Homo sapiens: one gene and its partner. The protein of the gene in region 1 purifies or fractionates together with the protein of each later gene. This does not show direct contact. Each region holds a gene or a part of one and is shown on either strand. Other genes may lie near its edges.

The links. The genes of interacting proteins can lie anywhere in the genome.
Region 2: the proteins of RNF10 (region 1) and ZNF729 purify together in Homo sapiens (co-immunoprecipitation; one large-scale study listed by IntAct). This does not show direct contact.

What each region holds. Positions count from the first base shown.
Region 1 is NC_000012.12:120,537,356-120,540,855, reverse strand, and holds part of RNF10 (E3 ubiquitin-protein ligase RNF10), read right to left. Parts: intron 1-3,500. UniProt on the Homo sapiens protein: E3 ubiquitin-protein ligase that catalyzes monoubiquitination of 40S ribosomal proteins RPS2/us5 and RPS3/us3 in response to ribosome stalling.
Region 2 is NC_000019.10:22,292,941-22,296,440, forward strand, and holds part of ZNF729 (zinc finger protein 729), read left to right. Parts: intron 1-3,500. UniProt on the Homo sapiens protein: May be involved in transcriptional regulation.

The DNA.
Region 1 (3,500 bases):
AGAAAGTAAACTGGCACTCAGCAAGAAGGCTGTCTTCATTTCTTCACTTATTACCACACTGGCAAGGAAACAGTTTCATAATGCTTACAGAAATGCTCACTGATAAGACAGTAAACTGCTCATTTCCAAAACACATAACAACTGACCACATCATGATTAGTGATTTTAGTTGCCAAAATCAACTCGTTTCTCGTCTTCCAGTTACCTAAGGGTATGAAGACAGATATGTCAAGTGAGAGACTGGCTCTTATCTCTAGACCCAGGCAAAAGGCAGCTAAAGGTTGAAGGTACCATCAGGCCTGGGACCCAGAGATAAAATTCAGAGTATTATTTTTGAAATGTTTTGTGGACAACTTGCCAGGATATACATGGGAAAAACTCGAGGGTAGAACAGGAGTGATAAGATGATCCACTTTAGATTTTGGAAAACAAAAAATATCAAGTTCCTGGGAGAAGGAACTATGGGTGAAGTTTTAAATCTCAGAGTGGTGGTTCTCAATCCTGGCTGCACACCAGAATCACTTGCACAGACTTTTTAAATTATGAATGCCCAGGACCCACGGGTTCAATCTAGGCTTAAAGAATCAGAAAAAGGCCAGGCACAGTGGCTTATGCCTGTAACCCCAGCACTTTGGGAGGCTAAGGTGGGAGGATCATTTGAAGCCAGGAATTTGAGACCAGCCTGGGCAACATGGTGAGACCCCCATCTCTACAAAAAAAAAAAAGATAATAAATTCCTAGGAAGGGGCCCCACACACCCCTATTTTTTTTTTTTTTAAGTTCCTCATGAGGTCAGGAGTTTGAGACCAGCCTGGCCAACATGGCGAAACCCATCTCTACTAAAAATACAAAAATTAGGCCGGTGTGGTGGTGGACACCTGCAATCCAGCTACTCAGGAGGCTGAGGCAGAAGAATTGCTTAAACCGGGAAGGCAGAGGTTAAAGTGAGCTGAGATCGCGCCACTGAACTCCAGCCTGGGTGACAGAGCAAGACTGTCTTGAGGGAAAAAAAAAAGTTCCTGAGGAGATTCTGATGCACAGCCACCACTGAGAACAACTGCCAAGAACTACTGTCAAGACACATTCCAAAATGGACAAGACCACTAAACTCAGGCTCCAGAGTCGACAAATAAATGACTTAAAAACTTAACCCAGCTTCTCAGTTGTTCCACATTTCCCTAATGGAAAGGTCTCCACCAAGTAGCAGTAGGTATATCTCAGCCTCCCCCCATTACCAAATTAAGGGCCACAAGTTTTTCACAGTTAAATTACTTGGCATCTTCATTTCTAGCTCTAGTTCTAACAGGTGGCTCGGCCTAGAGGTCAGAATACCAGTCAGCAAGTTTCTGCTGCTGATTCATGCTGTAATCACAAGCAAGTTGCTTACCCATCATCCAGAGTAGTTGACAAGCACCTCCAGAGGGGCAACATATGGCCTTACTACAGAATCAACTGACAACAAATTGAATCCAGCTGAAATTAGTAATTCTGAATGAAAGGAAGAGAGAGGTGGTATCAGGAATGATGCACATGCCAGTAAGTTATCTGCTTGCTAAGTGTGATTATACAAAGCTTATTGAAAAATACCGCCTAGGACTTCATAAAAATTTACTTGGACAAATCACTCTTAACACTGCTAAGCCTCTATTTTCTTTTCTGTGAAACAGGACTAATATTCTACCATACTTCCTCATAGAATCATGAGGATTAAGAAAGAAAACTTCTGTAAAATGCCTACCATAGTGGCTGACACACAGTTTTACTATGATTTGAAAGCCTATCATTAATAAATCCAAAGCGTTCCTGTCAAGAGCACCCACTAGACTTCCAATGAAGCCATATAAACCAAGGAATCCAGCCAACGGGCCCTGAAATTCTTTTAATTTCTCTAAGTGGTTTTACTGAAGGCTTCAAATCACCTCAATTTTCAAAGCCATTAAAATCTCCAGGTCCATTTACAGCTCAGAGGCATTCTTCAAGGCAGATTACCACTAGTAACCTGGTTTCTGGTACCAGAATAACAGGAAGAATGCCAGGGCAGTGCTTCATACCACCAACCTCAAAATAACTGCCTCATAATACCTGACCTTCCCTTAACCTCCCTGGCAGTTCTATCGGCCCAGGGGGATGGGACAAGAGCCTGGTTCCTGGCCAGAGTCCACTGCCTGCCCATAAACGGCCTACCTTCTCTCTTGCCTCTCTTTCTTTGCTCCCTCTAAATGACTTTCCCCACTTTCTAACCCACCTTCTCTCCTCTGAGCTATATTCACAGGATATTTACTGCTGCATGTTCTCAGAAATACCTATTAACACTACTGGAATGAAGCTGTAGGAATATAATCAAGAAAAGGAATGTTATATAAATGTTCAGGCAATTAGCCCAGGCAAAGAAACTGTGGTATGCGACTCTAGCCGGAAAGATCAAGAAAATCCTGGTAGCCAAATTTACATATTTCCTGTGTACAAATGAAGGGCAAATTTAAGCCAGCCACTGGAACAAAATCTCAAAGAAATTAATCATGTAGCTAGGAAGCAAATGGCCATTAATGACAGTTTACAGAATAGAAACCAAAGGGCTTTCTTCCACGAGGTAGAAAAGGGGGAGAAAAAAAGTGACTTAAATATTTGAATACTGAAAACTCTTGCTCTTTTCACCTTGACAAAAGATAAACTATCTTTTCACCTTACGCTTGTTTTCCCCTCAACTCAGTACTCTGTAATTCAAGAGGTCCTTTCAATGATTCCCAGCAGAATCAAGTATATGAAGTGTTCAGCTTATGAGATACTGCAGAAATCTTTTTATGGGATTATGCGGAGCTTGAGTGTACCCTTTTGTTAGAGCAACCATCTCATCGTGAAGTCACTGCATCAGAGCTCCTGAGTATCTGCTGTAGTAGCACTGGTCTTAGCTGTTACGTTCCTAAGGCAGCTTAGTTTCAACTTTAAAAATCAGCCAATATCCAGTTTCCTAACCTTTTAATCTCCACATATCCTGCCTTTTAATTTGTTCCTAAATGCAAGCAGTGGATTATGGCTAGTGAAGAAGCATGGATTTGGCTACAAAGCCCATCCTTCCTTGCTAAACGAACACGCACAGCAGAAGCCAGAAAAGCAGACACTGGCGGTGGCAAACATGGTCAAGCTTTCTAACACACACATTAAACAAAAAAAAAAGAATGCTGCCTCAAGGCACATATGTGTTATTTGTAAAATCTAACAAAGGGCCTTTACATGAGTTTTTGTTTTTTTAGACGGGCTGGAGTGCAATGGTGCAATCTTGGCTTACTGCAACCTCCGCCTCCCGGTTTCAAGGGATTCTCCTGCCTCAGCCCCCCGAGTAGCTGGGATTACAGGTGCGCACCACCACGCCGGACTAATTTTTTGTACTTTTAGTAGAGACGGGGCTTCACCATGTTGGCCAGGCTGGTCTCAAACTCCTGAACTCAGATGATCCACCTGCCTCGGCCTCCCAAAGTGCTGGGATTACAGGCGTGAGCCAC
Region 2 (3,500 bases), on another chromosome or scaffold:
GCCACACTGCTTTTCACAATGGTTGAACTAATTTACACTCATGCCAGCAGCACATAGCCGTTTCTCTGAAACCTTGCCAGCATGTTATTTTTTGACTTTGTAATAACAGCCATTTTGACTGGTGTGAGATGGAATCTGGTTGTGGTTTTTTCTTTGCATTTCTCTAGTGATGAGTATTTTTTTCATATGCTTGTTAGCCACATATATATCTTATTTTGAAAAACATTTGTTCATGTTTTTTGTCTACCTTTTTTTTTATAATTGAGACGAAGTCTCACTCTGTCGCCCAGGCTAAAGTGCAGTGGCATAATCTCAGCAAACGGCAATCTTCACCTCCTGGGTTCAAGCGATTCTCCTGCCTCAGCCTCCTGAGTGGATGGAATTACAGGGACTTGCCACCATGCCCTGCTAATTTTTGTATTTTTAGTAGAGACAAGGTTTAACCTTGTTGGCCAGGCTGGTCTCAAACTCCTGACCTCAAGTGCTCTTTCCTCCTTGGCCTCCCAAGGTGCTGGGATTACAGGCGTGAGCCACCACTCCTAGCCTTTTGTCTATTTTTTTTTTTTTTTTTGAGACAGTTTCGCTCTTGTTTCCCAGGCTGGAGTGCAATGGTGTGATCTCGGCTCACTGCAACCTCCGCCTCCTGGGTTCAAGAGATTCTCCTGCCTCAGCCTCCTGAGTAGCTGGAATTATAGGTGTCCACCACCACACGTGGCTAATTTTTTGTATTTTTAGTAAAGACAGGGTTTCATCATGTTGGCCAGGCTGATCTCAAACTCCTGACCTCAGGTGATCCACCTGTCTTGGCCTCTGAGAGTGCTGGGATTACAGGCATAAGCCACGGAGCCCAGCCACCTTTTGTCTACCTTTTAAGGAGGTCGTTTGTTTGTTTCTTGTAAACTTAAGTTTTTTATGGATTCTGGATATTAGACCTTTGTCAAAAGCATAGTTTGGAAATATTTTATTTTATTCTATAGGTTTTGTGTTTACTCTGTTGATGGTTTCCATTGCTGTGAAGAAGATATTTAGTTTAATTAGGTCCCATTTGTCAATTGTTGCTGTTGCCATTACTTTTGGTATTTTCATCATAAAATCTTTGTTAGTTCCCATGTCTAGAATGGTATTTTCTAGGTTATCTTGAAGGGTTTTTTATAATTTTAAGTTTTACATTTAAGGCTTTAATTCATCTTGAGTTGATTTTTGTATATGATGTAAGGAAGGGGTCCAGTTTCAATTTTCTACACAGTGCTAGGTGTTTATCCCAGCACCATTTATTAAATAGGGAATTCTTCCCACATTCCTCTTGTTAGTTTTGTCAAAGATCAGTTGGTTATAGGCGTGTGGCATTATTTCTGGGCTCTCTATTCTGTTGCATTGGTCTGTGAGTCTGTTTCTTGTACCAGTATTATGCGGCTTTGGTTACAGTAGCCCTATTGTATAGTTTGAAGTCAGGTAATGTAACGCCTCCAGCTTTGTTCTTTTTGCTTAGGATTGCCTTGGCTACTCGGGCTCTTTTTTCCTTCCATATGAATTTTAACATAGTTTTCTATAGTTCTGTTAAGAATGTTTTTGGTAGTTTGATAAGAATAGCATTAAATCATTTCTTTTTTTGGGCATTATGGCCATTTTAATCATTTTGATCTTTTCTACCTATGAGCATAGAATAGTTTTCCATTTATTTGTGTTATCTCGGACTTTTTTTTTTTTTTTCTTTTTCTTTTTTTTTTTTTTTTTGAGTCCGAGTCTCACTCTGTCACCCAGGATGGAGTGCAATGGCACAGTCTTAGCTCACCACAACCTCTGCCTCCTGGGTTCAAGCTATTCTCCTGCCTCAGCCTCCTGAATAGCTGGGATTACAGGTGCCTACCACCATGCCCAGGTAATTTTTGTGTTTTTAGTAGAGATGGAGTTTTACTGTGTTGGCCAGGCTGGTTTCGATCTCCTGACCTCAAATGACCCACCCGGCTCGGCTTCCCAAAGTGCTGAGATTACAGGCATGAGCTACCGTGCCTGGCCGTCTGTGACTCTTTAAGCAGTGTTTTGTGATTCTTGACATAGAGATCTTTCACTTCTCTGGTTAGGTGTACTCCTAGATATTTGTGTGTGTGTGTGTGTGTGTGTGTGTGTGTGTGTCAGTTGTGAAGGGGATTGTGTTTTTGATTTGGCTTTTGGCTTGCATGTTGTTAATATACAGAGATTCTGCCAATTTTTATACATTTATTTTGTATTCTGAAATTTTGCTGAAGTGATTTGTCAGTTTAAAGAGCTTTTCTGCAGAGACTGTAGGGTTTTCTAGATACAGAATTATGTCATCTGCAAACAGGGATAGTTTGACTTCCTTTCTTCCTGTTTGAATGCCTTTCATTTTATCTCTTGTCTGATTGCTCTGGCCAGGACTTCCAATTCTCTTAAATAGGAGCGGTGAGAGAAGGTATGCCAGTTTTCTTTCTTTTTTTTTTTTTTTTTTGAGACAGAGTCGCTCTGTCGCCCAGGCTGGAGTGCAGTGGTGCAATCTTCTCCGCTCACTGCAAGCTCCGCCTCCCGTGTTCACGCCATTCTCCTGCCTCAGCCTCCCGAGTAGCTGGGACTACAGGCGACTACAGGCGCGCACCACTACGCCCGGCTGATTTTTTGTATTTTTACTGGAGACGGGGTTTCACCGTGTTAGCCAGGATGGTCTCGATCTCCTGACCTCGTGATCCGCCCGTCTCGGCCTCCCAAAGTGCTAGGATTACAGGCGTGAGCCACCGCGCCCAGTCGATATGCCAGTTTTCAAAGATAAACGCTTTCAGCTTGTATCCATTCAGTATGTTTACTTTGGGCTTGTCATAGATAACTCATTATTTTGAAGTGTGTACTTTGAATGCCTAGTTTGTTGAGGATTTTAAACATGAAGGCTGATAAATTTTATTGAAATCTTTTTCTGCATCTATTGAGATAATTTTTTTGGTTTTTATCTTTAATTCTCTTTATGTGATGAATAACATTTATTAATTGTTGCATGTTGAACCAACCTTGCATCTCAGGGATAAAGCCTACTTGATCATAGTGGAGTAGCTTCTTGATGTGCTGCTGGATTTGGTTTGCCAGCATTTTGTTGAGGATTTTTTCATCAATGTTTATCAGGAATATTGGCCTGAAGTTTTCTATTTTTTGTTTCATCTCTGCCAGGTTTTGGCATCAGAATGTTGCTGTTTCTATATAACGAGCTAAGGAGGAGTCCCTTCTTCTCAATTTTGGAATAGTTTTAGTAGAATGGTTCAGGCCCTTCGTTTTACGTCTGGTTGAATTCAGCTGTAAATTTGTCTAATCCTGGGCTTTATTTTGGATGGTAGGCTATTTATTACTTATTCAATTTTGGAATTTGTTATTGGTCTATTCAGGAATTTAGTTTCTTTTTTGTTCAGTCTTTGGAGAATGTATTTGTCTAGAAATTTATGTATTTCTATTAGGTTTTTTAGTTTGTGTGCAGACAGGTGTTCATAGTAGACTTCAATAGT